Homo sapiens: one gene and its partner. The protein of the gene in region 1 purifies or fractionates together with the protein of each later gene. This does not show direct contact. Each region holds a gene or a part of one and is shown on either strand. Other genes may lie near its edges. The genes, in order: DPY19L2 and GUK1.

Region 1 (16,685 bases):
CTGTTCCTATTCGGCCATCTTGGCTCCACCCCTCACCAACTCATCTTACTTTGATTTATCCACATTTCCCCAGTTCCTCCATTGACAATTGGTCCTTGCTACTCACACATTCTTTCTTTCAATTTCTTCCTCTTTGAAGTTCATCCTTTGTATTTTCTGAGTGAAACTTTATTAAATGGTAAATCATTTCCCATGAGCTTTCCTCTGCTGTTTTCTTCCTTTCTTCATTAATTCAACCAGTATTTATTAATCTTCCAAGTGTGAAGCTGGGGATATAGTAATGAACAAGACAGATAAAGAACCTGTCCCTGTCCTCATGGTGCTTAGAATGTGTTAGGCTAGGGAAGTGGTGTATGGAGGGAAGATAAATGGAAGCATAGAAACGCTACACAGATGTGGGATTGAGCATCTGCATTCTCATACACAGACATGATCACAAAAAGGCAATTTAAGAAATGGTTTTTGGCCGGGTGCGGTGGCTCACGCCTGTAATCCCAGCACTTTGGGAGGCTGAGGTGGCCGGATCACTTGAAGTCAGGAGTTTGAGACCAGCCTGGCCAACATGGTGAAGCACCGTCTCTACTAAAAATACAAAAATCGCCAGGTGTGGTGGCATGTGCCTGTAATCCCAGCTACTCGGGAGGCTGAGGCAGAAGAATCGGCTTGAACCAGGGAGGCAGAGGTTGCAGTGAGCCGAGATCGCGCCACTGCACTCCAGCCTGGGTGACAGAGCAAGACTCTGTCTCAAAACAAAACAAAACAACAACAACAATAACAACAACAAAAGAAATGGTTTTTATCTTTCATCTGATTTTTGTATTCTGCATTATTGCTTCTCTGGGACTCAAGTAAAGAATATTTGCAGTAGTTTAGACAGTTCTAAGTTAATGCTACATGAAACTGTTAGAATCTCATCTTCATCTCTCAGTCCCTTAAATCCAATTTCAAAAGATAAAAATTTGCTTTTATTCAGAGTATTCAAAGGATGTGATCTAGACTCTAAAGTGCTAGTCTGTTTCTTAAAAATGATTTTATGTGGCTGGGCACAGTGGCTCACGCCTGTAATCTCAGCACTTTGGGAGGCCAAGGCGGGTGGATCACGAGGTCAGGAGTTCGAGACTAGCTTAGCCAACATGGTAAAACCCTGTCTCTGCTAAAAGTAAAAAAATTAGCCGGGTGTGGCAGCACGCGCCTGTAATCCGAGCTACTTGGGAGCCTGAGGCAGGAGAATCGTTGGAACCCAGGAGGCGGAGGTTGCTGTAAGCTGAGATTTCGACACTGCACTCCAGCCTGGGCAACAGAGCAAGATCCCATCTCAAAAAAAAAATTATGTTCACACCTTATGTATTTTATTTAGAAAGTATTTTAGCTATAACAAATTATACAATTGAGATTAATTTATACGTACACTTTTTAGAATTATACATTCAGGATTTAAACTTCAACCACATGGGTATGGTTTAGTACTATGATGTTTTAAATATAGAAAACTGTGATTTTAAATTCTGAGGTAATTTTGTGAAAAACTCACTGTATTTTACATGAATTTTGATTGTATTCTCTGTTTTTTTTGTTTTTTTTTTACAGTGGGACTCAACTGGGAGGTCTTATTACAGTACTGTGCTTCTTTTTCAACCATGGAGAGGTTTGTTTTCTAGAAAGCAATTTTTAAGAAATAGAAGAGGCTGTAGAGGAACAAGGAAATATACTCATCAAAACAATATTTAATTGTATACTACTTATGACTTCACAATATTTTAAAGACCCTTGTGTAATAAGTTGATATTTTAAGCATGTTGATTGAAATGTTTAAATAGCTAGAATTTCAAACATGAAATCTCTTGCCTTATTTTTAGTAAATATATACATATACATATATTCTGTAGAGAAAAGGAAATATTGTACTTGTTGAGTTGAATCATATCATGCACATTATCTGATTTATTCCCACTAAACTTTTTTTGTGGGTGGTGGTAGCCTCACCATACAAGTTATGAAATTTAAATTTAGAGAAAGTTAAGTTACTTATCCACATTCCACATTTACTACATGATGAAGCTGGATTTCCCATTCTATATCTGTCTGCCTCTAAAACCTCACATATATATTAATTTATATTTTATAAATTATAAAATTATAGTTATATTTTATAAAAACTTATATATTATATATATATAACATATATATTCAACTTTTTATTGTGGTCAGAATAAGTAACATATGATCTGCCCTCTTAACAGATTTTTAAGTATACAATATAGTATTAACACAATGTTGTATAGCAGATCTCCAGAACTTATTCATCTTGCCTAACTGAAACTTTGTATACATTGCACTCCCCTTAACAACAATGAAAGAGGCCTCAGGCCTGACAGCAGGGACACAGTTAAGACACTGCCACCTGCTCCCTCACTTCTTTCTGTTACATCATGCTGTCTGTTCAGTAATGCAAAATGCTCAATTCAAAATAGACATTAACTTACTAATTCAGCCCAATGAAACATAGTCCACCTAAAAAAGAGCTCATAGAAGCTTATTTCAAATATGATGGATTCATTCAACAAATTATTGAGTACATACCATGTCCATGCTCTGCTAGATGCTGAGGATATGGCATTGAAAAAGAGAGAGATTCTGACTACTAGCTCTTGGGAGCAATACATTTAATATGTTATGTCACAGGTTACATAGGGTAGAAGTACTTTTTTTTTTTTTTCAAGATAGAGTCTTGCTTTGTCACCCAGGCTGGAGTGCAGTGGCGTGATCTCAGCTCACTGCAACCTCTGTCTCCCAGGTTCAAGCAATTCTCCTGCCTCAGCCTCCTGAGTAGCTGGCATTACAGGCATGTGCCACCATGCTCAGCTAAATTTTTGTATTTTTAGTAGAGATGGAGTTTCACCATGTTGGCCAGGCTGGTCTCGAACTCCTGACCTCATGATCCACCCACCTTGGCCTCCCAAAATACTGGGGATTACAGGCGTGAGCCACCATGCCAAGCCAGGGTAGAAGTACTTTTATCCATTGCTCTTGGGTTAATTTTTAAAAATCAATTAGATAAAGGAATCATAAAAATTATACATAAAATCCTTATATATATTATTTTAAAGCAAACAAATGCATTGTCATTCAACAATGTGCTGACATAAAGACAAAGGCTTTTCTCTGAGTGTTCCAGACAACTGTTGGTATAAGTTGACTTTCTTATATGTATCATAATTCCTCTTCCAACATTTACAATTTTGGTATCTTGGAAGAGAAGCAATAACTTTTAAGACTCTTGCAAAGTAATAAGAGTTCACATTCTTTCTAGAATTTCAGAATTTTTGATGGAAAATTTTTCCAATACTCTGACCCATATGTCTTAGAAGTAATTTTAAAGTTCGTATGAAAATTTAATACCTTTATTACTTGCATCACATTTGTAGTTCCCAAATACTTCTAGTTGTTTTTAAAATATATACTTAACCTTTTTTTACGGTACATTTTACAAATTCTGAGGCAATCCTAGCTATTCGAAGTGTGTATTTATATTCATTCCTACTTGTTATGTAGAAACTCTCTTGGTGCTTGCAAATGACCTAGGTGACATTTGTTTAGCTATTTGTCTTGGCATGCATATATCCCAAAGCCTGGGATGCCAGGATCATATGCCAGGATCATACTGCAGGGCTGGGCTGTGGATCTAGTTGGTCAGTTCCAGAATTTTCACAACTCTTATACGTACAATCTTGTTTGTCCCTTGGGTTTCCTTTTGCTCGGTCTGATATATCTGTTGCTGGTTTCTGGACATGGTAGTTAATTGCTGTCTACATAATGGCCTCATGAGTTAAGAGAGCTTCAAAAACTGAGAAGCTATGCCAGACACTCAGAAATGGGATCTAGTGAGCCTAGTATTAAAATTACTAAAACAAACTCACCCCTGGTTTTTTAATATGTTTGTTGTAGTAAATAGGATGTAAAGTGGGCATTTTGTTGATTTCAGGCCACCCGTGTGATGTGGACACCACCTCTCCGTGAAAGTTTTTCCTATCCTTTCCTTGTACTTCAGATGTGTATTTTAACTTTGATTCTCAGGTAACTTCGATTTATAAAACGAAGGCAAATAAATTATAATTTAAGTTTCTTAAAATATACTTCAATTCAGCACTTTGGGAAGCTGAGGTGGGTGGATCACTTGAGGTCAGGAGTTCGAGACCAGCCTGGCCAACATGGTGAAACCACATCTCTACTAAAATACAAAAATTAGCCGGGCATGGTGGTGTGCATCTGTCATCCCAGCTACTTGGGAGGCTGAGGCAGGAGAATTGCTTGAACCCAGGAGGTGGAGGTTGCAGTGAGCCGAGATTGTGCCACTGCACTCCAGCCTGGGCAAGAGAGCAAGACTCCCTCTAAAAAAATGTAAATATATATATTACATATATACACTTCAATCTATGAAGTTGTAATTACCAAATTTAGACCATTTTTTAGTTATTTTAAAAGTAAATTGAGTATAGAGTTAAGAAAATAATTCAAAATTGCTATGTAAAAATTGCTCTCCATTTAAGAGTGTAGGCTACAGGTTTTAGATAACTACATTATGTTTTAATAAACCAAAAGGTATGCGTTTGTATATAGTTTGCCAAGATTCAAAAGTTTTTGAGAAACAATTACATTTTCTCTTCACAGTTTAAGTACTCTGACATTGTTTTCTAACCTGTGGTTTTGATAACTGTGCCATGAAAAAAGTGTTCTGTGTGCAAATGAATTTGGGAAATGCGGAGTTAGATGGATAAGGAGTATATATATTCACATATTTATGAAGCATTTCTGAACAACCAATGTTTCTAACAGGACAACCAGTTTCATTTCAAACTTTTTTTTTTGGATACACTTTTTTTGTAGGGATTACATTTATAAGCATTTTAGATATTTAAGAGGTCTGAGAAATGAACAAAAAACCCCATAAGTGGTAGAATAGTATAAATAACCTTATCAGAGAAATAAGTTTGATAGAATACTAATGAGAACTCTCACTGAATGAAATAATGATCACTATCTCCTCCAAACTCCCAGAGGACCCCATTCTTCACCTACTAGTCCCTGGGAGATTCTGCCTTATATAAAAGTCATTTGTTTGTCTTCCTTATTTTTTAAAACAGTAAATTTATGAATCGTCTACACATACACAAATTTTTATTTATTTATTTAGAGATGAGGTCTTGCTCTGTCACCCAGGCTGGAGTGCAGTGGCACGATCGGCTCACTGCAACCTCTGCTTCCCGGGTTCAAGCGATTCTCCTGCCTCAGCCTCCCAAGTAGCTGGGATTACAGGTGCACGCCACCATCCCCAGCTAATTTTTGTATTTTTAGTAGAGGCAGGGTTTTACCATGTTGGCCAGGCTAGTCTCGAACTCCTGACCTCAAGTGATCTGCCTGCTTCAGCCTCCCAAAGTGCTGGGATTACAGGTGTGAGCCACTGTGCCCGGCCAATTATATGTATTTAAAAGTACCACTGGAAACAGGGACCATGCCATATTTATCTCTTTAACCACAGAACACTGCACACGTCCATGCAAATATTTGTGGCACTCAGATAAAGCTAATTGAAGAGTGGTAAATAGTAGTGTACTGGGGTGGCACAAACCTTGAGAATGGAGCAGGCTAACTTCTGATTTCTTACCAACCTGACAAGTATATTCTGCGGTTGAATTTGGATTTAGGAACCTCCTCCTCATTCAGATTTCTATATCTTTGCTCTACACTTTGCCTTCTCTCAAAGATTAGGTGATGGAAGCTGCCCATTCTTCATCACCCCTTGCTATTCATTCCCAGTTTAATTCCTAGGAAGGTGGGTTATTTTTATTTTTTGAAGTGATATCAGTCTGGTCAGTCAGGGGTTTCATGGAATAAAATGTCTTAATTAGAACATTTAGGGTTGTATCATTGAGGGCATGTGCTATACTCTGTGTCTTAGTCAAAAGTAATTTTTGTTTGAAAAATATAAGATTACAAAGTACATAATGAGTATTTTATGATAATATTAGTAAACAATATGAACATTTAGAATTTTGTTTTTGAAAATTTATATACGATTGTACAAAGATTCATCAAAATCCAATACAGAATTTATAAAAGGAAGAGTTGCAGTTTTACTATTTATGTAAAATGTTTGTGTTTCTTTTTTCATATCTAAAAGTTACTGTAATTCTCTGTGGTAAAAGGTATTGGTTCCCAATACATCTCAGTAATGCAGAATGGACAATTTAAACTTCCACATGCTTCAGCTGAATTCTAGAATGATTTTTTAATTTTTTAAGATTCCTTCTCCTTAAATTTTTCCCATAGTTTTTAACTTATTACTTTGTCAGCACTTATATTTCTCTTCAAAGTTTTTTGAAGCACAAAAGTTGTGGCATATAAAAGTTGTTGCTACACATACAGGAGAAGCATGTTGAGGTGTGCAGGGGCAGTGCTGCATCCTATTTTCTGACCTCCTTGCTGGAGTAATAAATTTCTAATGTCATGCATATGTAGAGGAAAAAGAGCTTTTGTATTTAAAATATTTAATGGTAAATTACAATGTTAATATTAAAACTCTAATTTTGATTGCTTCATGCAAGGAATGAAGTATTTCAAGTTCTTTTTAGTATACTTTAAGAAGTTAACTATATTTTGTTGTATTATAGTAAAGGTAATGGAATAATGTAGATTTTATCATTTTGCAATTAGTCTTTCTTTTCAGTGACAGCCCATTTTTAGGGTGAAACTTACTGGTATCAATTCTCTCTATTAAGGACCTCAAGCAATGATAGAAGGCCCTTCATTGCACTCTGTCTTTCCAATGTTGCTTTTATGCTTCCCTGGCAATTTGCTCAGTTTATACTTTTTACACAGGTAAGATGATTTTTTAAATTAATTTTTATTTTTATTTTAAGTTCTGGGGTACATGTGCGGGATGTACAGGTTTGTTATGTAGGTAAATGTATGCCATGGTGGTTTTTGCATCTATCAACCCATCACCTAGGTATTAAGCCCAGCATGCATTAGCTGTTTTTCCTAATGTTTTCCCCACCCCATCCCTTGACAGGCCCCAGTGTGTGTTGTTCCTCTCCCTGTGTCCATGTATTCTCATTGTTCAGCTCCCACTTATAAGTGAGAACATGTGGTGTTTGGTTTTCTGTTCCTGTTGCTGAGGATAATGGCCTCCAGCTCCATTCATGTCCCTGCAAAGGACCTGATCTTGTTCCTTTTTATGGCTGCATAGTATTCCGTGGTGTATATGTACCACATTTTCTTTATCCAGTCTATCACTGATGGGCATTTGGGTTAATTCCATGTCTTTGCTATTGTGAATAGTGCTGCAATGAAGACATGGGTGCACGTGTCTTTGTAATAGAATGATTTATATTCCTTTGCGTATATTAATTAAGTTGAACGCAAGATGTACTTGGTTGTTTCCATATAAATTTTTAAATATGGTTACATTTACGCCCTAAAAGATTTTCAAAATAGGGAATAAAGTTTACTTAAAGGTATGATTTTTATGAAATAATATAATTCCACATTCTTTTACTGTATTGGTTAGTTTGACAGATTTTAAGGCTCGGCATGTGAAAGACTTTTTGTATTATTTTTATTCACAAATGTTATTTTTGGTGTTTGAGATAATATCTGTATATATCTACCTATAGATTTTCCTTTTGTCCTGGGAATCATTCTGGGTGCCAAGCTACACAGCATGCCAAGGGCCAATCCTGCTCTTCACAGCAGGACGTTCTGCTTCTAATTCAGCTGAATGTTGGCTGTTTTGTCTGTATAGCAGAATTTTACCTGGAACCATTTCTGTGAGCTTTAATCATAAAGCTCATCATTGCTTAAGTGAGCTGAGCCCATATCCTGTTTCTAAAGCAACTACATAACTAGTAACAAGAAACTGAACTGGGGAAGCAGAGAGTAAATGGAGAATTTTGATGACATTTCATGATACTAAGATTTTCCATCAGAGCTCCTTCCTACATAACAAATGCTGATGATAATAATAATATTCTATATTGGAAGTGAGAAATTCTGCCAAGAAGTCTCATGCTGCCAATAGCCTACAAAGAATGAAATTATAACCCCAGCTCAATTGGTGCTGCATGTTTAAAGTATTCCGTCTGTTTAACTTCATAAAAGTTGGCCCCTTTCAGGTTATAACACAGACATTATTCTATGGTTTTCATTATTTGCACATGCCAACAGAGTAGAATAGATTTTTAATGAGCATCATTTCATTGCAAGCAAATTTATTAATCCAGTGATACTGATGAAACTAAGAAGCTCTTTGGGGCCGGGTGTGATGGCTCACGCCTGTACTCCCAGAACTTTGGGAGGCTGAGGCGGGTGGATCACTTGAGGTCAGGAGTTCAAGACCAGCCTGGCCAAGATGGTGAAACCCCATCTCTACTAAAAATACAAAAAAATTAGCTGAGCATGGTGGTGGGCTCCTGTAATCTTGGGAGGCTGAGGCAGAGAATTGCTTGAACCCAGGAGGTGGAGGTTGTAGTGAGCCGAGATTGCACTACTGCACTCCAGCCTGGGTGACAGAGTGAGACTCAGTTTCAAAAAAAAAAAAAGAAGTTTGATATTGCTGTTAATGTTTTTCTAGTCATTCTCTGGATATATACTAGGCTTTCATTTTTCTTTACTAATGTATATAGTTTTGTTTGTATGTGTGTGTTTCATGCTTACAGAGGGATAATTCAATGTTATTTTCTGGAAGTACTTTAAGATTTTATTCTTAATTGTGTTTTTCGTAGATTAAGGTTAAAATTAGTTAATTGTGCAACCACATCTGGCTAATTTTTAATTTTTTGTAGCGATGAGGTGTCACCATCTTGCCCAGGCTGCTCTTGAACTCCTGGGCTCAAGCAGTTCTCCTATCTTGGCCTCCCAAAATGCTGGGATTATAGGCGTGAGCCACCATGCCTGGCCCAATTTTTTTTTTATGACTTCTGTGCTCTCCTGGAATTTTCAATCCTATCAGTTATTTCCTTGAACATTTGAAGCATAGTTTAAAGATATATCTGATTATGCCAGAGAAGTGTTTGAGTGATCTCCAAGCTAAGAATAATTTTTATATATTTAGAGGGTTATAGAACAAAAATAGAAAAAGAATATACAAGAGACTGTATGTGACCAACAAAGCATAACATATTTATTATCTGGCCTTTTATATAACAAATGTGCTGATCCCTGATCTAAATCTTTTGTGGATCTATTTCTATCATGTTAGTGATAGTGTCTTATCTCCATCTATGTTGGGTTATTTTTGATGTGGTGCTGGACATCATACATGAAAAATTGGAGAGGCGAGTAAAAAGCACTGATAAATCTTGAACCACCTTTATGCAATCAGATTGAGATGATCCGTAGATGGGTTTCAGTCTTTCTGAGGGCTGCTTGATTTCTGGTTCACTATTATAGTATGGCCTTTTGAAACTCCAAACTAAAGCACCCTTCTTGGTGCACTCTGCTGAATCTGCTGAAATGCCTGCTCAGCTTGTTGGTCTTCCAACTGCCTCTCAGCTGGAAGGCATCTGCCTCTGTTGAAATTGGCAGATACCTCTGGGAGAAAAGTGGCCTAAAATGTCATGCTCATCGGTATAGATTGCCATCCATCTTTTTAATTCTGCATTTGCTTTGTTAATAGTCTGTGGCTTTTATACGTATTTAAAAAATATTTTTATTTATATATTTATATTTTTCCTAGCCATTCTAGTTCTTAGTGGGAAGGTTGGTTCAAATTCCTTTGCTTACCATTATTAGAACTGTAGCCCTCCTCTTATATTTACTTTGCCTGTGAATAGTAAAGTGTTAGTTTTCTATACTTTTTTTCACTTTTGCTTTTTTATATTATTTCAGATAGCATCATTATTTCCCATGTATGTTGTGGGATACATTGAACCAAGCAAATTTCAGAAGATCATTTATATGAACATGGTAACATTTTTAATATATATAAGTCAAATATTAAGATAGGTTCTCAGAGTTTATAAAATCGAAGTGATTCTGTTTTATACGGTACCTCCTCTTTGGTAATATTTAATACATATGGTATTGGTGATATCCAGAAGGAAAACTGGAAATGTATATTATAGATGACATATTATAACAGATTATACTTTCAACTGGACTGTAGATGTGTTTTATTCTCTAGAACTTTTATTTTTGTTTTACTTATTATTATTACTACTTTTAAAACTGCCTTTTCTTTCTCAGACATGAGATTTTTAGCATTTTGCCTGAATATGACACTCTAACTGAAATTTTATATTCTTGCAATTTTGTTTTTGGCTTAGGTCCCAAACATAGCTTCCTTAAAAACATAAAAAGTTAGTAAAGCTTCATAAATAATAGAAGTCCTGAAGTCTAACAAAAATATGATTAGTAAAACTGGTATTTATAACTAAGTCTTTCTTATTATATTACTCCATTGTTAAAACAATAGAAATCATAGACTTATTTTTCATTGTTCCAAGTAGCAGATGGAGAAAAAGTTAAATTCTGCCAGATAGAGTTTATGGTCTTGAATTTTAATACTTAGAATCTAGCAGTGACTTGAAATTCTGTTATCATTTGGCCAAGAGTCATTCATCTTTATGCAAATAAATTTGCATTAGAAATGGCTATATACCTACAAAATATGCATTATGCCAATATATGTAATAACCATAAAATGTATTTTTTTCATTTTTTTCAGATTTCAGTTACCCTTAGTTTCATTTTGATGTTTGGAAATTCAATGTACTTATCTTCTTATTATTCTTCATCTTTGTTAATGACGTGGGTAAGTGTTTAGTTCATAAAGTTGGTTTTTTTTAACCTGCCAAATAGCATGTTTTCCTGTCTAAAACAGGTATAAGAGAATAAATAGGCCCTTTCCTGATTATCACTCAACATGACAAAATTCTTCCCAAGCAAAGCTTTTTATCTGTCTTATCCTTGAAAAATACTATAGTAGGAAGTTTTTCTTTTTAAGACAGTGCCCAAGTAAATATTTAAAAATGATCATAAAGTAATAAGACTTACTTTAATCATATCCCATTTTATGATAAAAATGACTTCTTTTCTCCTAAGTCACTTGAGGAGGTTAAGTACTCATTGCAGTGACACTGCCATTGCCCAGAACATTTTTGGAACTCCTCTGAGTTTCCTTCACAGACTATGGCACATTCTTTAGTATGTCTTGCCTTTCAAGAGTGGATTTGATTTTTGGAAATGACCAAAATTTTGTGAATATTTTGTGTGATTGGGCTGGGTAATACAGATCTTGCTCAAACGATGGTGTGACAGTAAAGTCATAAGACCGATTATTTTGCACCTATAACTAAATTATTTCTGAAGGCAGTTTAGAAAGTGTAGTTCCAAACTACTTTGAGTGATGGCAAGATAATTAGAATAAGTGTGCAGTCTCCTCACGGGAACTACATGGAATGACACTCTTTTGGATATGTGTTTGGAAGGGTGGTTTAGTAAATCAGTTCTATTACATTGTAGTTATACTTCTGATATCTATAAGCCAGAACCTAGAATATTCTCCTGTACCTCCCATCTCCACACTGATCAGAAATGATACCAACTACGGTAATGCCAAAATATAGCACTTTTCCATGTATGGTGCAGTGATTTAATCTTTTGGGATTGCCCTTATGTTTTAACATTTTTGCTTTCCGTATCCTTCTTCCCTCATAGTAATCCCTCCTCTTTCTCTCCCAGAAAAAATGCTCTTTCTTTCCAACATTTTGTCAAACTATTTCACCATTACAGAGTAGAGGACTCCTAATAGTGTGCTCATCTACCTCTTTTAATGAAAACTTTTTTATTTTGAAATATAGTACAGATAAAACTGCATAAAGCAAATGTTTTGTGTGCTGACTTAGTGCTGGCTAATACTGATGAGTACAATGTCCCCTTCGTGTCTGCAGGGATTGATTCCAGGACACCCCCAACCCCTGTGGATACTAAAATCTGCAGATGTTCAAGTTTCTTATATAAAATGGTGTGTTATTTGCATATAATCTATGTACATCTTCCTATATACTTTAAATCATCTCTAGGTTACTTATAACGTCTAATGCAATATAAATACTATGCAAATAGTTGTATACTGTATTGTTTTTTCATTTGTACTTTTTAAACTGTTGTATTATTATTATTTCAAATATTTTCTATCTGCTGTTGGTTGAATCTGCAGCAACTGGAACCCATGGATGTGGAGGGCTGACTGTGTTATGTATTATGTGGCAAACATTCTTAAACTACCATTATATCAAAATTATAACTCTCTAAATGAGTGTAGAAGCCTCCATGTGACCTGTCCCAAAGCACTCCCTTGTACTGCCCTAAAACGATAATGACTATCTTGACTGCTATGATAGTAACTTTCCAGCATTCCTTTATAGTTTCATCACTTAAGTTTCTCTTTTTAGCTACAAGTTTCCTGCATATCTGCCTGGTTTTATCCTCATGAAATTTATTTGTTGAAGAACCACAGTCATAGAACATGTGGAGGATTTCATGGTCCAGATTTTGCTTTTTGAGTTCCTGTGGTGTAGCTAAGCATGTTCCTTTGTCTCATGGTATAGCTTGATATATTAGAAATTGGATCTGAAACTTGGATTGCTTCAGGCTTGATCACTTTTGCAAGTCTTTAGTATTGTTCTTTCATTAAAAGGCACATAATGTCTCTCTTTATGGTACTAGCCTTCAGTGCCTTATGCTGGCTCTGTTAATTCATTAGGGATTGCAAAGTGGTCACATTCTAATCTGTCATCTAAAGTTCATTTAGGAGAAGTAAAGTAAATGTTGATTTACCTCTTTATTTGCAAGTTTTAAAAATAATGAATTGATTCCCTGTCATCTTCCAAATGTAGGCTCTTTGGGCTGTGTATATGTGTGTTTAGGTTTCATTAGGAACATAGGGATTTAAACATTTTTTATGTATTTCAAGTTAATTGAAATTAACATCTTTACTCATTCTCAGATTGTTTCTTTGTTGACCAGGGGAGCCTCTTTAGGTTTCTACTAAGTTCTCTGACATGACACTCGTGGTCTGATAGCATACTTGTGTCATGTATGACAAGTTTTTCCAGGTCTCTCTTGTGTACTCCTGCCCAAAACCTGGAGGAAGCCATTCCTGCAAGGCACCCTCGTTGCCTTTACTGGGGAAATGGTGTTTTAAGACCGCAGTCTGGGACCCAAGGATGCTCATTGATACTGAGTAGGTCATTGTTTCTAGGCCTTATTAGTGGGCAGAGCTAGGAAATATTATAGGTTGCAGGCTCTCTTTCTTTAAAAATCTACCATGAAAATATGTGTGTGTGCATGCATTTATGGTAAACTAGCTCACAAGTTCTGATGGGTATTTCCAAATCAAATTCAAGAATGTAGGGTTTTTACTTAACTCTTTCTATCCTGTATTTGCTTTTGTTTCTTGTGGGTCTCAAGAAGCCAGGGGATGATAGAATATCATATATCCATTTGCCTTCTCCCAAAGTGTGTGCATGAGAATTGCTATACTGCACCACGCACATGATTATGAGAAATAAAGAATTTTTTGCATATCCTTCTTTCATTCTCTTCACCCATTTTATTTTTTTTACTAATTCTGTATCTATATTGTCAGAACAGAGTATTGCATACTGTACTTTCTGCCTTATCAACCTTATTTCATGTTTTTATGTGAAGAAATATGCATTTATTTATCACCAGTCTTTATGTCGTTATCTCCCAGTTATCTTGGTTATTTTAGTCTTGTTCTACAAGAGAATTCCTTCAATTCTGATGTGTTTGTCAGTTTGTTTTGTCACCTTTTACTTGAAAGTGAAGTTGGCTCTATGTAAAATTCTTGTCTCTTTTATTTTTACTTTTTCTTTCTTTTCTTCTTTTTTTTTTTTTTTTGAGACGGAGTTTCGCTCTTGTTGCCCAGGCTGGAGTGCAATGGTGCAGTCTTGGCTCACTGCAACCTCCAACTCCTGGGTTCAAGAGATTCTCTTGCCTCAGCCTCCCATGTAGCTGGGATTACAGGCGCCTGCCACCACGTCCAGCTAATTTTTGTATTTTTAGTAGAGACGGGGTGTCACCATGTTGGCCAGGCTGGTCTCAAACTCCTGACCTCAGGTGATCTGCCTGCCTCTGCCTCCCAAGTGCTGGGATTACAGGTGTCAGCCACCACGCCCAGCTGTCTCTTTTATTTTTTGCTTTGAGAACTTGTTTTACTTCTGTCCAAAAGGGTTGCTATTAAAAGTTATACAAGTTTTGATACGTTATAAACGTATCACTTTCTCTTGAATACTTTTTATCTTATTTCTTTTTTTATTTCTAAAAGTTTCTTCTCTTCACCTTTTATAGCTCTTAAGGCATTATTATTATGTTCATTTCCTCATATTCCTTCTAGTTTTTTATGTCTGAAATTATTTTTGTTTTATTTCAAATTATTTGATTTCTGTCAGCTCATTTCTCAGTTTTTCTAATTTTGATTTGTGTCATTCTTTCACATATTTTAGTATTTTAAAATATCTTATTTTAAATGGCTCATTTTGAAATGTAAGTTTTGTTTAATTGTTCAGTCTTTCATCCTTAAGTAACTGTGTTAGCTATAGGATTTTTCAGAGAAGCCCTTTATCAGCTTAAAGAAGTTCCCTTCTGTTCAGCTTGCTGAGTTTTTTCAAAAATGAATTTCGAAGATATGATATCATATAGTTTCTCTTTTCTGTTTTGTTAATGTGCTGCATTATATTGGTTGATTTTCAAATGTTATAGCATCTTTGCATTCCTTGAATAGACCTCACTTTGGTCATGCTGTTTTATTATTTTTTGTGGGATACAGCTTTCTAAAATTGTACTTACGATTTTGCACCTAAGTTCATGACAATAATTGGTTCATAGTTCTCTTGTGACATCTTTGTCTTTTTTGGTATCATGGCAATGCTGGCCTCATAAAATGAGTTATGAAGTGTTCCCTCTTCTCCAGTTTTCTGAAGAATTTGTGTAAAATCCTTATGATTTCTTCCCTAAATATTTGGTAGAATTTACCAGTGAAACCATCTAGGACTTTCTTTGTAGGAATGTTTTTAACTACAAGTTCCATTTCATTAATAAGGTATAAGGCTATTCGTGTTATCCATTTCCTCTTGAGTGAACTTTGGTTGTATCTTTCAAGGAATTTTTAAATTTTATTTATGATGTCAAATTCATTGACAAAGGCATAATATTTTATTTCTTTTATGTATCTATAGTATCTGTAGTGATAGTTCCTCTTTCATTCCTGGTATTAGATGTTTGTGTTCTATTTTTTTTTCTGATCAGTCTGGTTAGAGGTATATCAATTTTATTAATTTTCTTAAGGAACGAGCTTTTGTTTTCATTGATTTGCTCTACTGCTTTTGTTTTCTGTTTCATTGATTTCTACTCATTCTTTATTACCTCATTTCTTTTGCTTACTTTGGGTTTTGCTCTCCTTTTTTCCTAGTCCTTTTTTTTTTTTTTAAAGGTATAAAGCAAGGTCATTGACTTGAGACCTTTCTTGTTTTTTGTTTTTAAACACAGGTGTTTAGTGCTATAAACTTTTCTCAAAGTACTGCTTTATCAACATCCCACATATTTTGATAAAGTACATTTTTAAATTTATTTCATGTTATTGTCATACATTTTACTTAAACATGTGATATAGAAATCTCAATAAATTTTTGTTTTTACTTAAACAGTAAATTACCTTTGAAAAGTATTTGAAATTTTTAAAATGTTATATATTTACCCTGTAGTTACCATTTTCGGTGCATTTTACTTGTGTACAGCCAGATTGACCTACTGTATTCCTGCTGTCTGAAAGACCTCCTTTAACATTTCCTTTAGTGCAAATCACCTGGTCATGAAGTCTTTATTTTGCCTTCATTTTTGAAAGGTATGTTTCCTGGGTGTAGAATTGCAGGTTAACAGCCCTTTTATTTAAGAATTTAAAAGATGCTGCTTGACTTGTCTTGTTGTTTGCATTTTTTTCTTATGAAATCTGTTGACATCCCTACGCTTTCGTCTGTAAATAATATGTTACTTCTCTAGCTATTCCTAGCTAGAGATAAGATTTTCTCTTTACCACTGATTTTGAGCAGTTTGTTTATATAATGTGCCTTACTATAGCTTTCTTTATGTTTCTTGTATTTAGGATTAATTGAAATTCTTAGATCTTTAGGTTTACAATTTTTATCAAATTTGGAAAAATTTTGGTCATTATTTCTTCAAATATTTTTCTGCCTCCCCACTTCACTTTCATTTAGGGACTCTCACTACATGCATATGGGGCTGCTTGAAATTGTTCAGTGGTTCATGGAGCCTATGTTTATTTTTGTTCTTAATTTAATTTTGGATAGTTACTATTGCTGTGTCTTCAAGAGTTCACTGGTTGTTTTTCTGCAGTATCTAACCTGTTGTTAATCACATCCAGTGTATTTCTCTTTTAAGTCATTGTAGTTTTCATATCTAAAAGTTCATTTTGGATCTTTGAAGTATTTTTGTGTCTCTAGTTAACATGTTCTTTCTCTGTTACCACTTCTTCACCATGTGTAATACAGTTATACTAACTGCCTCAGTGCTTCCACCTGCTAATTCTGTCATCTGTGTCGGTTTCAATTAATTGTTTCTTCTTCTCATATCGGGGCTGTGTTTTC
Region 2 (15,858 bases), on another chromosome or scaffold:
TTGTGTGGACATGTTATTAATATGTGTTTCATAAATTGTATAAAATTCGTAAAACTCTGGTATGTTAGCCATGATTTTGGTTATTTTGTTAAATCATTGTATGCCACAGAAATAATTAAATTTCCTTGTCAACTGAGACATTATTATTAGGCACTCTCACCAGATCTTTACCCATGGCCATTTAAAGTGTGGTTGTTCACAGTTAATTAGTTTATACTCATGCTTTTCTAAAAGTGTTTTGCAAGCAACTATAATCCTAAAGTGGTTGTGTCTTCAAGGAGATGCATGGAAACCTTGGTGCTTTGGGAAAAATTCTCTCAAATTGGGTTTTTTCCTTTGTTCTCACACTGCCATGACAATCAACACAGAAGACTTCTGTGACGAAAGGTGTAGGGTTTTTCCCCACACACCAGGCAGTGGACACCAGCGAGGTGTCCTCCAACTCAATTCTAACACTATCTACCTGGAGACAGTGTCAGATTCCACAGGCTCGGGGCTCAGTCCCCAAGACTGCCCCTGACACTCCCAGACACCAGTTGCAAGTCCAGGTCTTGGGAACGTCTGACCAACTGGCTTCAAGTTGGGGGTGCCACAACCCTCTCTTTGGGTTTTATTAATTTGCTAGAGTGGCTCACGGAACTCAGGGAAACGTGTTTTCTTGTTTTGTTTTGTTTTTTGTTTTTGTTTTTGTTTTGAGACAGTCTTGCTCCATTGCCCGGGCTGGAGTACAGTGGCATGATCTCAGCTCACTGCAACCTCCGCCTCCCGGGTTCAAGCATTTCTCCTGCTTCAGCCTCCTGAGTAGCTGGGATCACAGGCGCCCGCCACCATGCCCAGCTAGCTTTTGTATTTTTAGTAGAGACGAGGTTTTGCCATGTTGGCCAGGCTGGTCTTGAACGCCTGACCTGAGGTGATCTGCCTGCCTTGGCCTCCCAAAGTTCTGGGATTACAGGCTTGAGCCACCGTGCCCAGCCAATTTTTTTTTAACTTGAAACACAAATGCTTTATTTAAAGACACATCTCAATTCCTGCGTGGCAGGCCAAGAATAAAATAAAGGAGAACGCAGCACACCATTCCCACTGGTCAAGTGGTCGAACCCAACATCCAAGACCCAGCCAGCAGCCAAGCTCAGCGCAACCTCCCGACCTCTGACTCTGACTGCAACAGGGTGAGCACATCGCCCTCGCACACGGGGCCTTTTACATTGTGGATGATGGAGCGGCTCGCATCCTCCATAAATTCCATGCACACCTGCGACCACTGTCCTTTAGAGCCCATTCTGCCCAGAAGCTTGGTGACCCTGACCAGCTTGATAGGCTGCATGTGGCTGGTGTCCATGATGGCAGTGCGGCGGCAGTTGGGTGAAGATAATACTTATGTTTGCTGGTTTATTAAGAAGGGTATTTTTAAGGATACAAATCAACAGCCAGATGAAGAGACGCATAGGGCGAAGTCTGGAAGGGTCCTAAGCGCAGGAGCTTCTGTCCTCATGGAGTTGGGGTGCAACACCCTCCCAGCCTGTGGATGAGTTCTTCTTCACCTTTCTCTCAGCCTCCACATGTTCAGCTCTCTGGATGCCCCCCAAATCCTGTCCTGTGGGCCTTCTATACTTTATTGGTTGTCCATGATAGAAGCATGGACAACTGTGTCAAACACGATTGGATAAAAATAAAGTCTGATCTAAACCTAGCAGGACCTGTCCACGTCCTTCCTCCAGAGTATGGCGAAGGACCCTTTCTGGAATGAGGGTCTTTTGATCCACAATCAGATTAGAGTCCTGCCTTGGGCAAGTGAAAGAGAAGGTCAGAAATATTCTGTCTCCTGAGACCCAAAGCACCCAACATGCTTTGTAACAATGGTTCTGGGAACTATGAGCTAGGAACTGTGGACAACATCTCTATATCAGGACACCACAGATGGAAAAGACTCTGACAAGTACAGATTTCTGATCATTTTAAGATCATACCACTGGGCTGGGTAAGAATTTCTAGAACTCTAAGGGAAAAGCTAGACTCACCAAATTGCTAACCCAACATCAAGCAGGACAAAAATTAATCACACAAGACTAAATGGACTGATGAATTATGGGTTTCTATGTCTTTTTAGAATTCAAAAATATTGCTGGTTCTTTCGTTTTTCAGATTTAGGGAAACCTTTTCTTTTAGGCTATCTATAGCTTAAGGCAATTTGGTAACATACCTTTGTGAACAAAAATGGAGACATTGCTTTTTTCTCCCTACCTGATCCTTCCAGAATTTAGAAACTACTCATGAGGATTCTTATTTTTATGACAAAATAATTATTTGTATATGCTCAATAGAATCTGCTCTTGGCTGGGCATCTCAGCCTCCCAAAAGTGAGGGATTAATCCCAGCACTTTGGGAGGCTGAGATGGAGGGAAGATCACTTGAGGCTAGAAGGTTGAGGCTGTAGGGAGCTATTATTGCACCACTGTGCTCCAGCCTGGGCAACAGAGTGAGGCCCTGACAGAAGAAGAGGAAGAAAGAAGAGGAAGAAGGAGGAGGAGAATCTGCCCTCTTTATAACAGGACACAATTGGAAATATTGGTTATATTATGACTGGGATATCGAAATTGAGACTGTAGATACAGACTTTGCCTGCAGTACTTACAGACGCATTCTATCTACACTGGCTTCCTAGCATCGAAAGATTTTTAAAAGTTCATTTTGAGATTCCTGATCTAAAGTTCCACCCAAGCAAACTTAAAAGAGCCTATGTGGTTGATGCTATTCTCACTGAACTTACCTAAATAAGCAGGGCAAGTTTGATGAGGCTAAACATTTTGCAAACAAATTAGTCTTACTCTGATTATCTCTGGTAGAAATGAGGGGCAACTGTAAAGAGAAAATGTATGTTTCAGAAGAAAGAACATTATAGTACACTTGTTCTTAGATTGTAGCCTTGTTTGTTGTTCTAGAGTTTTTATTATCTACCTGCAGAATGGACTGGACCCTGAATTCTTCTTGTTTCCTCCAACATATGTTGACAACTCTCCACCTTAAGAACAAAGCTACTAAGCTGGACAACTTGATGTAAGCATCAAGGGACAAGTCTCATGCCAACGTGTGGACCATACAGAGTTCACCAAACCATCTGTTGTCATAATCAGAGACAGTCATATTACAAATCAGGACCAGAAGTTGACCATTTTACATTGTGAAGCTTTTCCCCAGATATCCAAAGAAGACTAGCCTCTTGCCCCTCTCAATTTTTCCTTGCTCATGCCTATCTCTTTCACTTGGCAGGCTAATGCTGTAGTTAGAATTTCACACCAGTAGCTTCTGTGGGTTACCTGATAAATATATCGGGTCTGTCAGGCCAGACTCTCATCTTTATGACCCAACAGATCCTTTAGTTTACTTAGTGGGTAAGTTTGGCAACATCCCTGATGCAACTGTTTGGCATCAAAGCAAACCAGACCCACTTCTTCTCACTCCCTGCCTTAATTTTACATAGATTACCTACTAGCTGAACAGGAAGGGGTCTGTGTGGTTTCTGACACATCTTGTTGCACATGGGTAAATACATCAGGTATTGTAGACTCAGCTGCAAAAAATTAACAAACAGGCTACTTGGTTAAAATGGGTAGACTCCCCATCTGGCTTATTGTTTGATCTATTCAGTTTTCGTTGGTTGGGTTCACAGGGACTCTGGCTAAGGAACATACTCCAAACCCTTGGTATTATCCTCCTGACAGTCACAATAGTAGTCTCCCTGGTGTGTTGTATCCTTTCAAATGTTTTAAATGTTTGCATGTGACCATCCATTGAACATCAAATGGTCCCTCTTCAGCTGGAATGACACAAACTCAAAGAAATGCATGATCATGGCCAGGCATGGTGGCTCACGCCTGCAATCCCAGCACTTTGGGAGGCCAAGGCGGGCGGATCATGTGGTCAGAAGTTTGAGACCAGCCTGGCCAATATGGTGAAACTCCATCTCTACTAAAAATACAAAAATTAGCTGGGCATGGTGGTGGGCACCTGTAATCCCAGCTACTCAGGAGGCTGAGGCAGGAGAATTGTTTGAACCCAGGAGGTGGAGGTCGCAGTGAGCTGAGATTGTGCTATTGCACTGGGCGACAGGGCGAGACTCCGTCTCAAAAAAAAAAAGAAAGAAAGAAAAGAAAAGCATGATCATGAAGACACTGTAACCTATCAATGACATGTTGAGACCAGAAACCCAAACTGATAGTAACTGAGAGAGGCACTTTTAAGTTTTGGTCAAGCTAGGTGAGAGCCTGATCAAAATGGGTAAAAATTGTTTTTAAAAAATCATGGGAGGCCATTGTTTTGGACCGAGCTCTTGCACTAGGTCCCAATAGACCAGGCCAAACCAAAATTAAATCACTTATGTTAAATACTACATAAGAAACTAAATCCCAAAACAGATTAGTTTTTCCTCAGTTGGCATAATAAGGAAGTCCCTTCTTCTCTCTAACCCTTACAAAAGAGTAACCTGAAGTAAGCTAAGGTTATCAATCTGTTATTTTTCTATCTTGTTTCCTCGTTCTCCTCACCTTACAAAACCCATGGTTCTGCTATCGCCCAGGCAGGGGCTTTTTTTTTTTTTTTTTTTTTTTTTGAGATGGTCGCGCTCTGTCGCCCAAGCTGGAGTGCAGTGGCGCATCTCAGCTCACTGCAAGCTCCACCTCCCGGGTCCACGCCATTCTCCTGCCTCAGCCTCCTGCGTAGCTGGGACTACAGGTGCCCGCCACCACACCTGGCTAATTCAGGCAGGGGCTTTTATTCTATTTTGTAGAATGAAGGCTGCCTCAATTCATGAATCACGAATAAAAGCCAGCGAGACCTATGAATACATATGACATAATTTTGCCTCTGACAGTGAACTTCCCCTTTTTTTGCCTAAAAAGCTTCTCCTTGCCCACCTCCCCCAATGCAGCACCTATGGTATGACATAGCACATGTATTCCAGGTTACAATCCCTTGTCCAACAAACTGTTTTATTATTAGTATTTAAAAAAAATAGAGACAAGGCTTTGCCATGTTGCCCAGGCTGGTCTCCAACTCCGGGGCAAGTGATCCATCCGCCTTGGCCTCCAAAAGTGCTGGGACTGCAGGCATGAGCCATGGTGCCCAGCCCCAACACATTTTTTTGAAGTTGTATTTTTTAAAGTTTTACTTTTTTTCTTGCTCTCCTGCAGTTCACATTCAATACTTTTTTTTTTTTTTTTTGAGACGGAGTCTCATTCTGTCGTCTAGGCTGGAGTGCCGTGGCTTGATCTCGGCTCACTGCAACCTCCACCTCCCAGGTTCAAGTGATCCTCCTGCCTCAGCCACCCCAGTAGCTGGAATTACAGGGGCCCACGACCACACCCAGCTGATTTTGTATTTTTAGTAGAGACAGAGTTTCACCATTTTGGCCAGGCTAGTCCCAAACTCCTGGCCTCAGGTGATCTGCCTGCCTCGGACTCCCAAAGTGCTGGCATTACAGGTGTGAGCCACTGCACCCAGCCTTCAATAAATCTTTTTTAAAAATTTAAAATAATTTTTAGAAATAGAGTCCCGTGGCCAGGTGCAGTGGCTCACGCCTGTAATCCCAGCACTTTGGGAGGCCAAGGTTGGTGGATTACCTGAGGTTAGGAGTTCAAGACCAGCCTGGCCAACATGGTGAAACCCTGTCTCTACTAAAAATACAAAAATTAGCTGGGCGTGGTGGCGGGCGCCTGTAATCCCAGCTACTCGGGAGGCTGAGGCAGGAGAATCGCTTGAACCTAGGAGGCCCAGGTTGCAGTGAGCAGAGATGGCGTCACTGAACTCCAGCCTGGGTGACAAGAGCGAAACTCCGTCTCAAAAAATAAAAAAAGAAAGAAATAGGGTCTCGCTCTGTCACACAGACTGGAGTGCAGTGACACGAACACCGCTCACTGCAGCCTCGACTGCCCAGGCTCAAGCGACCGTCCCACGTCAGCCTCCCGAGTAGCAAGGACTACAGGCACAAAAAAGTTTTTAAATTTTTTGGTACAGAAGGGGTTTCCCTATGATCCCCAGGCTGGTCTCCAATTCCTGGCCTCAAGCGGTCCTCCCGGCTCGGACTCCCAAAGAGCTGGGATCACAGACGTGAACCACGCGCCCGGCCACATTCCCCAATTAATGGTTTTTGGAGAGTGGCCGGTTTGGAACGGGCTAGCGGAGTCGTTCGTTAGTTAGGTCCCTGCAGTGTAGATGGAGGACGGAAACGGCGCTGTGACATAAGCGGGAGGAGGCGGGCTGAGGCAGCGCTGTGACGTAGCAGATGAAAGCCGGGCCCGCGCTGCACTGAGGTACTTCTCTGAGTGACAAGCGGGACAAGTACGCCGTGGGCGGGGCCGGCGGGTCGTGATGTTAGTTCGCGCTGTGTGGAGGCGGGCCGGCGTGGCGCTGTGACGCAGCGGGAGAAGACGGGCTGGGAGGGCGCTGTGCTGAACGCCCCTGCGGTCGCGACAGGCCAGCGCAGGTGGAGGCGGGGCTAGCGAGGCACTGAGGTAAGTACTTCCCTAAGGGGCGGGGAAGAACGAGTGAGACATGGGCGGGGCAGTCGCCTCATGACGTCAGTCTCGCGCGCGGGCGGAGGTGGGCCGGTGCGGCGCTGTCACGTAGGTTCAGTGGGCGGAAGAGGTGGCCCCGGATGCTGCGGCGCCCGCTGGCCGGGCTGGCTGCGGCCGCCCTGGGCCGGGCCCCACCGGACGGTGAGTACGACAAGCGCGATCGCGAGGGTGACTCGGGTCGAGGCGGCAGCGGTCCCTGCGCTTTGCGGTCGCCCAGTCCACGCCGCCTCCGGATCTCCTCCTAGCCGAGACGCCCTGTGCCGCATTCAACTGTGGGCCCTGAGAACGGGGGAGCTCTGGAGGGCGGACGGGCTGGCAACGCAGCGGAGCCCGGGTCCCGGAGGGCGGGGCGCTCCTCAGGAGCTGGGCAGGCCGGCAGTTATCGCAGTGTCGAGCTGCTCCCCGGGCGTATAGGAGCGCTCGGTGTCTTCCCGACACCTGGGCGCGCCGCCAAAGAGAGCAGCTGGGAGTCCCTACCGCTGGCCCGGCGCGGTGTGCGCTCCGGTTCCCACCTCACCCTGCAAGCCTTGGGGTCCTGGGCGGATGGAGCCGGCTATTCCGGGGCTCCCAGGATTCTGCCTACTCCGCGGCACGGCGCAGAGACGGGGACTTGGGGAAACAGCAGGCCTTCCCGACGCATGGGTGTGGCATTTGGGGTTCGGATTCTCCAAAGCCAGAGTCCGGGTTGGGGTTCTTGAAGCTGCCCTGCTGCCATTCTTGAGCGTCGCCTTAGAAGTATGCCCCAGTAAGGACTGGTGTGGGAAGCAGGTGCCTCAAAGTTGATTTTGACCCTGCGTGTGGTGGGCCTCGGTTTCGTCTTTGCATGAAAGAGGTCGGTCCTGAGGCCCCGGGCTGGGTCCTGCTCTGCTGTCTTTGGGCTCATGGCCCCTTCCTGTCTCAGGCTTGCTCTGCTCTTTACCTGGGGTTGCTGTCGAGGACCCTGTGCAAGACTCGGCCGGTTTTTCTTTCTCCCTGATGGACAGACCCAAACATAGCCGCGCAGCATCGTGAAGGGCTGGGGCCTTCACTCCTCTGTGGCTCTGGAAGAGCCCGATTTCCTCAGGAGGTAAAGGAATGTTCCTGTCCCCCCCGGGGAAAGAAAGTGAAAATGAAAGCGCCCTGGCTGCTCCTGGTGTGGTCCCATTTAAAACGAGGTTGCTGAAGGCCAGGATGCGTGCTACCCGGATGTGTGCCCAGAAACCCTGCAGCCAAGAGCAGCCGCCTGGACCACCAGCCTCCCCTTCATCCACCTGGCCCAGCCCAGAGCCCAGGCCCACGTCTGGTGGTTTGTGTCTTACGAGAGGCCAGGCGGGGGCTGAATTCTCTCGGTTCTCAGAAGGTCAAGCCCTCTGTTAGCATCTCCTCGAACAGTGGGCCGGGGGCAAGGTGGTGACTCTGTTCAGTCCTTAGGATGGCTGGAAGCCAGAAGGAGGAGATTATGCCGCCACAGCAGGGAGTGCCTTTCCAGGAAAGCGGCTGCTGGGGCAGCATGGGAGCCCAGTCCAGGGAGCGTTCTGGCAGAGACCATTCCGGAACATGGATCTGCGCCGGCGGCTCCCAGGAGACCTTCCATCTCGGAGCTCCTGTGGAGACCACGTGCCTGGCAGGTCCTTACAGTTGTGGGTTGTGTGGCTTCTTGCCAGGCAGCTGATTGGAGTTTGCGACTGTGGGTTGGTGAGAGTGGAGAGCACAGAATGTTTGCTGGAATGCTTCCCTCTGCCCACAGGAAGACACCTTTGGCGCATGTGTTCTGGTCAGGGCAAAGGCTCCGTGGTTTCCACCGCAAGATTGCAGGAGCCTTGAGGCCTGGGCCACAGTTTTCTCCCTTGGGTGTGCTCCATGGAAGGTGGCTTTGGTGACCGCCCTGCCACTGGTCTCTCCCCAGGCAGGCAGGCAGCCTGTGCCTCCGCCCTGTCTCCAGCGGTGGTGGTGTGGCTGTGCTTCTGCAAGGCCCGCATCCACTCACTGTCTGCCCTCTGCACTCTCTGGCTGGCCAGGGCCCCCAGTAGTCTGCTCATTGTGCCCTCACGCTTGGGCAGAGCCGAACTCAGGGGACCCAGGAAGAGCGGAGTGTTGGCCCGTCCAGAGTTCTTGGCAATTGGTGTGTCATGTGTGCCTCGTGCCCTGTGCTGGGCGAGAGTGGGCACAGCTGCGCAGACAACGCCCTTGGCGAGGCTGGAGCCTGGACCCCTGCCTGGCAGCAGCTGGGTGAACTGGTGTCTTCTGCCTGCGGGCCCAGCCTCACCTCAATAGCTTACTGCTCCCTCAGGAGGGAGGAGGGGAGGCCTGGGAGCCTGGGCTTGGCGGGGTAAGGGTGGTGCAGGGGCAACACCTGTGGAGGAAACAGGCGGGGTTGGGGCCCACCAGCGTCTGCTGTCTGCTCTGTGCTGGGTTGCATCTGTTGGTGTCTGATCGTTGTCAGGGCCCTGTGGTGAAGAGACACACCTGCCACTTGCTGCTTGCGAGGAAAGGGGGAGATCCCCAACCCAGGAGCCAGAGGTGGGACTCCAGCACCCCCCATTCCTGGGAGTTGGAAGTGAGGCACGAGCTCCCCAATTCCTGGGCATCGGGGATGGGGTTTGGGGCCGAGGAGGGGATGGAGACCAGGGTCTTGTGGTAGTTTGGTGGGATCCTCAGAAGGTGTGGCTCTCCCCCTTCTGAGGACGCAAAAACTCCCAGAGTTTTTGGCGATTGATGTGCCACGTGTGCCTTGTGCCCTGTGCTGGGCGAGTGTAGGCACAGCTGTGCAGACGACGCCCTTGGCAAGGCTGGAGCCTGGACCCCTGCCTGGCAGCAGCTGGGCGAACTGGTGTCTTCTGCCTGTGGGCCCAGCTTCACTTCACTAGCTTAGCGCTCCCTCAGGAGGGAGGAGGGGAGGCCTGGTCAGTGGAGGTCACCACTGTGTTTCCTTCTGTGTGGGTTTATAGTCACGTAGCATCTAGGTTCAGACCCGAAGAGCTTGGAGCCAGGGGCTGGGGGGAACAGGGCAGGACCGGCCTTGGGGCAGCCCTGTCAGGCCCACCAGTGCCATGCTGGTTGTGGGTTGGCAGGGCAGAGTGACCTTAAGAAGGGCCAGCTCAGTGGAGCAACAGGACAGAAGCTCACATGGGGTCCAGCCCACAGGACCATTTGAGTAGCTCTCCCATATCGGGTCCTTCGAAGCACATGATTTAGCTTTACTTTTTCTCCTTCGTATTAGAAAAGTCACCATAATACCATCAAGTCATAATTTCTGTGATCTCAGTGCTTCAAGTAGGTGTGTAGCAATTGCTGGATGTGTCCTGAGAACTGTACCCCTTCCACCCTGGCGAGAAGCAGGGGCCAGAAATTCACACAAGTGGCATGGCTCATTGATTGTGGGAGACTCTGGGGGGCTCCTAGCTAGTGCATTATGGGAACCAGGCTGTGGAGGTTGCAGGGCTCGCTGGCTGGGAGAAGCTGAATGGATAAAGAACCCTGGCCACTGCAGTGCGTGCTGATGGTTGGCTGGCACGTAGAGGAGGTGGCAGGGCTGGGTGAGCAGCAGGAGCCAGGTTAGTGGGGAGGCCCGAGCTAAGCGCAGGGGCAAATTCTGCGGGTGGGAGAGCCAGGAGGGCATGGGGTGCATGGTGAGATGAAAACGATGTGTGCTTGTGACAAAAAGCCCAGAAGAGGCAGTAAGGAGGGAGGAGTCTATCCCTTATGGAGAGCACATGGACTTCTGGGTGGGTGTCCTGCAGTTCCCTTCCTCTTGAGTCTTTTTAACTGGGGGTCCGGTGTGTTTGTGATCAATGACATGTATGCGTGTGCATGTGTACCTTTGCAGGTACACATGTGTGGTGTGTGTGCATTTGCTTGGTGTGCGTGCATTTGTGTGTGTGTTTGTGTGTGCATGCATGTGTGTGTGTTTGTGGTAGGTTTGTGCACACATCCTGCATACCTTTGTGCCTGGGAGTGGCATGTGTGTGGTGGGTGTCGCTGTGCATGATGGAGTTGCAGCCGTGGTGCATTTGTGAGATTACCTCGGTGGCCTAAATTGGGGATTAGGAGGGCATCCTCAGGTCCTTCCCACTGTCTGCTCGTCTGCCCACAGGCGGCTGTGCCCTAAACAGGAGGAGGCCATTCACGCCTCGCCTGAGTTGTGTCCAAGGTGTGCGTGTGGCCAGGGGTCCATCCGCTTCCCTCTAGCCCAGCCCCTGAACACAGCTGCAGTGCACGGCCCCACTCCTCAGCTCTGCTCCCCATCCCAACTCGAAGACGCTGCCCTGGCCCTGTGTGTGCAGCTCATGTGGACTGGGAGGGCAGGGCAGGTGCAGGTCTTGGGGCAAGAGCTGGAGCTGTCTTTTCCTTCCTGCACAGCCGCAGAGCAGGTGGATGGGGCTGCTTCCCTGCAAGGGCCCAGGGCCAGGCCCCCTGGGGATTTATTCGTGGCTTAGAAGGGTGGGGCCAGAAGCAGGCGTAGTGGGGATTAGGGACTCAGCACCCCCAGCTCTCAGTCCAGCAGACAGACCCACCCCAGGCTGACTACAGAGGCTGCACCTCAGCAAACAGGTAGGCCCTGTTCTTGGGGAGGATTCCCACCAGGCAAAGGCCAGCTCCCGGGCCCTCACCTGCCACGTGTCCAAGCTAGGATCCTGTTTGCCTTTCCCTTGGGGGCTGGGAGGGAGGCCTCCAACCCCCTCTGGCATTACCAGCATCACAGATAGGAGTCCCAAGTCCTATGAGAAGTTCCTGGAATAGGTGTAGATTCAGTAGATCTTTACAAGACCATATCTGCAGGGCAAGGTACCAGAGGACAGAGGCGGGGACAGGGACACTTCCATTCCAGACCTAGCAGCCCAGCACTCAGCACCATGCATGGGAGCAAATGGCTGGACTCCTGGGTGGGGTGGGGGTCTCAGAGCAGGCTCCCAGAGGGCTTGGAGGTGACTCCACCAGGTGGGGACGGCAGCTCCCAGGTAGGGTGTCATCAGAGTAGACAGCATTGCTTGCTAGGGACCCCTGGGGAGGCTGACAGGGTCAGTGGGTTTCAGTTGGGGGGCTCCCCTGCTGAGAACCCAGTAAAGCCGGCCTTCCATTCGTCTCCCGTGTGCCCAGAGCCTGGTCTGAGGGCCGCCCTGTGCATGCCGGCCCTTCCAACGTGGCAGAGCTCAGGGGGAAGAACACCCAGGCTCTCAGGAGACTCTCAGGCCAATGTCTCCATCCCTGGGTCAGCCCTTTCCTGCCATGAATTCAGGAAGGCAGAGGCAGCTCAGCAGATGGGGACTAGAGGCCGCACTGCTATCCACAGCCTCTCTTCTCACCCCCAGGCATGTCGGGCCCCAGGCCTGTGGTGCTGAGCGGGCCTTCGGGAGCTGGGAAGAGCACCCTGCTGAAGAGGCTGCTCCAGGAGCACAGCGGCATCTTTGGCTTCAGCGTGTCCCGTGAGTCCAGGGCTCTCGTGGAGGGGTGCGTAGACCTCAAGGCTGCTGAGTAGTCCTAGCACCGTGAGCAGGCCAGGAGCCCAAACCCAACAGGCACACCCACCCTGCAGACTGTCCGAACTCTTGCACACTCCCCCCCACACAGAACCTGAGGTTATCACACTCCTGCTGTCCTGCGTGCCTGTGTCTCCCTTCCCTGGGTCTGTTGAGTACTGATAACTGGGCCACAGTGTTTCTTTCTGGGAGAACCCTCGCCTTGTAGGCTCCTGCGCCTTCCCAGTGGTGTGCTTCACTGGCTGCCTGCATCCTGGGGCTCAAGTGCTGTCGGGACTGCAAGGGAAACGCTGGGTGGGGCATTGGGCTCCGAGCAGCCCCCGATGGGTGACAGGTCTCTCTGCTAGATACCACGAGGAACCCGAGGCCCGGCGAGGAGAACGGCAAAGGTGAGTGGGGTGGGGCCCTATGGCTGGAGCACCCCCAGTGTGGGCAGGGCTGCTGGGCCCTGCAGCTGTGTTGGCTGTGCTGCCCGTCTCCTGCCCCCATCAATCCCTAATCTGTGAGATGGGTCCTTGCCTCCAAGGGCCGGTGAACTCAATCAGGGTGTCAGCGCCACAGCGTGGTGTCGCCTTCCTTGGGTACAGTGTGAGAGGCCGGCCAAGGCCTGGGGCTGTCTTCCTCCCACCTTGGAGGCGGCCACAGTGCTGCTGTCCCCAGCCCTGTCCTGGACTCGGCACTTATCAGCACTTTTGAGCTGTCTTCTGGAGTCCTGGTAAAAAGGGCTACTCTGCCTGCCTGATTCAAGACAAGGGACCCCCTTCCCAACAGCACCCCCGCCCCTTGCCGTGCAACCCAGTGGTCTCCAGTCACCCCACCACATCGTCCCCTCTGTAACCTGACGGTCTCCAGTTCCCCCACCACCTTCCCCCAGAACCTGTTGGTCTCCAGTCCCCACCCCATCACCACCAACTCCCAACTCCCCACTGGAACCCAGCAGTCTCGTATCTCCATCAGTGAGGACAGTGTGAGAAATGGTGTCTGGCTCAGGCACTTGGCAGCACTTGAGGGGTCCTCAGATGTCTCCTGCCCAGCAAGGATCTGACTAAAGCAGTCGTGGGTGTGGGAGGGGCCTGCAGGCATGCCTGGGTTGGGGGCAGCTGGCCCTGGGCACCCTGGTGCAGGTCCAGTCTGCCCTCTGGATGGCCCCTCCTCTTCCCCAGATTACTACTTTGTAACCAGGGAGGTGATGCAGCGTGACATAGCAGCCGGCGACTTCATCGAGCATGCCGAGTTCTCGGGGAACCTGTATGGCACGAGGTGGGCCATGCGTGGGTGTGGGTGGGCTCCCAGGGTTGCTGTTGGCAACAGGGATCCAGGTAGTGCCTGCTGCCTGCCCGCCATCCACACCACCCACCCCATGGTTATGAATGTGGCCAGGTTGTGGCCCAGGGCCAGGCTCCCACGTCTGTGGCCCACAGTGGCTCTTTTCATGAGGCTGCTGGGCCCGGTCCTGCCACCGTGCATTGTCCTGGCAGGGTGAAGGGTGCACAGGACACCTCATGCTCACTACAGGCACCTTGGGGAGTGGGTGGCCTCTGTTCCCTGTAGGCGGGGCAGGGCGTGGGGGTAGCAGGTTTGAGATGCTGTCGGGTGCTGGGTCCAGGCCAGGCCTAGGCTCAGCTGTGGGAGGAGAACGCTGGGCCCGGGAGGGCCTGGGTGTCCCTGAAGCTCCTGTAGGCCTCAGAGAGCCCTGGCACCCCTGCTGACCTGGCACCTCTCCCCAGCAAGGTGGCGGTGCAGGCCGTGCAGGCCATGAACCGCATCTGTGTGCTGGACGTGGACCTGCAGGGTGTGCGGAACATCAAGGCCACCGATCTGCGGCCCATCTACATCTCTGTGCAGCCGCCTTCACTGCACGTGCTGGTGTGTGCTGGGCAGGGTTGGGGGCTGGGGGCCAGGGCATGCCAGGCTCTGATTGCCACCCCCTTTTTAGGAGCAGCGGCTGCGGCAGCGCAACACTGAAACCGAGGAGAGCCTGGTGAAGCGGCTGGCTGCTGCCCAGGCCGACATGGAGAGCAGTGAGTGTGCCGTGGGATCACCAGGGAATGCCAGGAGGGGAGTCAGGGTTCTGAGGTCTGTGGCACCAGGGACCCTGTGGGTCCCCAGACCTCCTGACACCTGGAGTCCCTGTGAGGGTCCTCAGACCTCTCAACTACCTCCCAACACCTAGAGTCCCCGTGAGGGTCCCCAGAACCCACCCCCAGTCACCAAGGGTCTCATTGAGGGTCCTCAGATTTCCCTCTGTTACCCAGAGTCTCCGTGAGGGCCCCCAGACCCCCCATCGCCCAGGGTCCCATGAGATGTCCCCAACCTTCTAGCCCCGGGGGTGTCATGTGCATCCTCTTACAGCTGTTGCCTCTTCTCTGGGTCTGACTGCAGCCCACAAGAAGAGGGCATTTAATGTTCTGCTGTGTGTGTAGAGGATAGTGTAGCCCCTAACCAGAGTCCTGATGGGTGCTGGTGTCCAGACCCAAGTTCTGGGGCTCCAGAGAGAGCAGGAGTGGTGCCTGAGGACTGAGGCCCAGGGGGCGGCCCTTCCCTACCCTGCACAGGCCCGGCTGGGCTGGAAAGCTGTCCCACAGCCGCAGTGAGGACAGCCGCAGGCCAGTGGGCTGCTCTGGGGGTCGTGTGGGACCTGGGGTGGGGCTGCATGGGCTCACTGTGCCCTGACCCCAGGCCCCACCCACAGGCAAGGAGCCCGGCCTGTTTGATGTGGTCATCATTAACGACAGCCTGGACCAGGCCTACGCAGAGCTGAAGGAGGCGCTCTCTGAGGTGGGCCCATCCTTGTGCCTACCTGGGCAAGGCCCAAGGGGAGGCCTGGGGGCCAGGCCTTTGTTGTCCATGAGGCCACTGAGGTTAGATGGGACAGTCCTACCCAAGCACTGGCATGAGACACCGAGGTCCACGGTGGAGGGAGAGCAGGAAGCCCAGCCCTTCCTGGATACCAGCCCTCCCAACTCCCTTTCTTCCTCACTGGCAGGAAATCAAGAAAGCTCAAAGGACCGGCGCCTGAGGCTTGCTGTCTGTTCTCGGCACCCCGGGCCCATACAGGACCAGGGCAGCAGCATTGAGCCACCCCCTTGGCAGGCGATACGGCAGCTCTGTGCCCTTGGCCAGCATGTGGAGTGGAGGAGATGCTGCCCCTGTGGTTGGAACATCCTGGGGTGACCCCCGACCCAGCCTCGCTGGGCTGTCCCCTGTCCCTATCTCTCACTCTGGACCCAGGGCTGACATCCTAATAAAATAACTGTTGGATTAGAAACTCCATAAATGAGTGGAATGTGGCCCCAAGGTTGGTGGGGCCCCATCATCCCGATCGGGCCCTGAGCTCCGGCAGCCCACCCTAACCACCAGCCCCAAGGAGGGCCACAAGATGGCCTCTGCCTAGGCATCTGCTGCCTGCCGGCTCGTGGCTGCTGCCCCAGGGCAGCATGATGCTTGACTGGCAGGCAGGGAAGGTGGCAGGGCTGGTCCCAACCCACCTGGCAGGCTGGCAAGTGGGGAGCAGGAAGCGGCTGCATGGGGCAGCCTGAGGCTGCAGGGGTGGGCCCTGAGGGCTGCCTCTTGGTGCCCGACCCTGTGGGTCTGGCATGGGCCAGAGGTTCCAGGAGAGGCCCCTGAGCTCTGGCAGCTGGAGGTTCTAGATCTCGAGGTCTAAGGGGTTCCCTGAGGGAGATGCCCCTCCCCTAGCTGCCCCAGGGGCTGTGTGTGGTGTGTGAGGAGCCTCCTCTGCTCAGGCTGCCTCCCTCCTTCCCCAGTGCTCCCCCAGCTTGCCTGTCTAAGGCAGCACAGGGCCGTGCTGCCAGCCACCCCTAGGGTCAGCCCCA

Evidence for each region.
Region 2: the proteins of DPY19L2 (region 1) and GUK1 purify together in Homo sapiens (affinity purification with mass spectrometry; 2 studies listed by BioGRID and IntAct, with this or other methods). This does not show direct contact.

What each region holds. Positions count from the first base shown.
Region 1 is NC_000012.12:63,611,429-63,628,113, reverse strand, and holds part of DPY19L2 (probable C-mannosyltransferase DPY19L2), read left to right. Parts: intron 1-1,587; coding exon 1,588-1,645; intron 1,646-3,982; coding exon 3,983-4,074; intron 4,075-5,471; exon of another isoform or gene 5,472-5,830; intron 5,831-6,776; coding exon 6,777-6,876; intron 6,877-9,885; coding exon 9,886-9,963; intron 9,964-10,723; coding exon 10,724-10,810; intron 10,811-11,948; coding exon of another isoform or gene 11,949-12,022; intron 12,023-15,818; coding exon of another isoform or gene 15,819-15,864; exon of another isoform or gene 15,865-16,685. UniProt on the Homo sapiens protein: Probable C-mannosyltransferase that mediates C-mannosylation of tryptophan residues on target proteins. Required during spermatogenesis for sperm head elongation and acrosome formation. Also plays a role in acrosome attachment to the nuclear envelope.
Region 2 is NC_000001.11:228,133,654-228,149,511, forward strand, and holds GUK1 (guanylate kinase), read left to right. Parts: upstream 1-6,625; 5' UTR 6,626-6,649; coding exon 6,650-6,710; exon of another isoform or gene 6,711-7,980; coding exon of another isoform or gene 7,981-8,176; intron 8,177-11,042; exon of another isoform or gene 11,043-11,099; intron 11,100-11,857; coding exon 11,858-11,971; intron 11,972-12,372; coding exon 12,373-12,414; intron 12,415-13,188; coding exon 13,189-13,285; intron 13,286-13,752; coding exon 13,753-13,891; intron 13,892-13,961; coding exon 13,962-14,046; intron 14,047-14,717; coding exon 14,718-14,803; intron 14,804-15,011; coding exon 15,012-15,044; coding exon of another isoform or gene 15,045-15,199; 3' UTR 15,200-15,298; downstream 15,299-15,858. UniProt on the Homo sapiens protein: Catalyzes the phosphorylation of GMP to GDP. Essential enzyme for recycling GMP and indirectly, cyclic GMP (cGMP). Involved in the cGMP metabolism in photoreceptors. It may also have a role in the survival and growth progression of some tumors.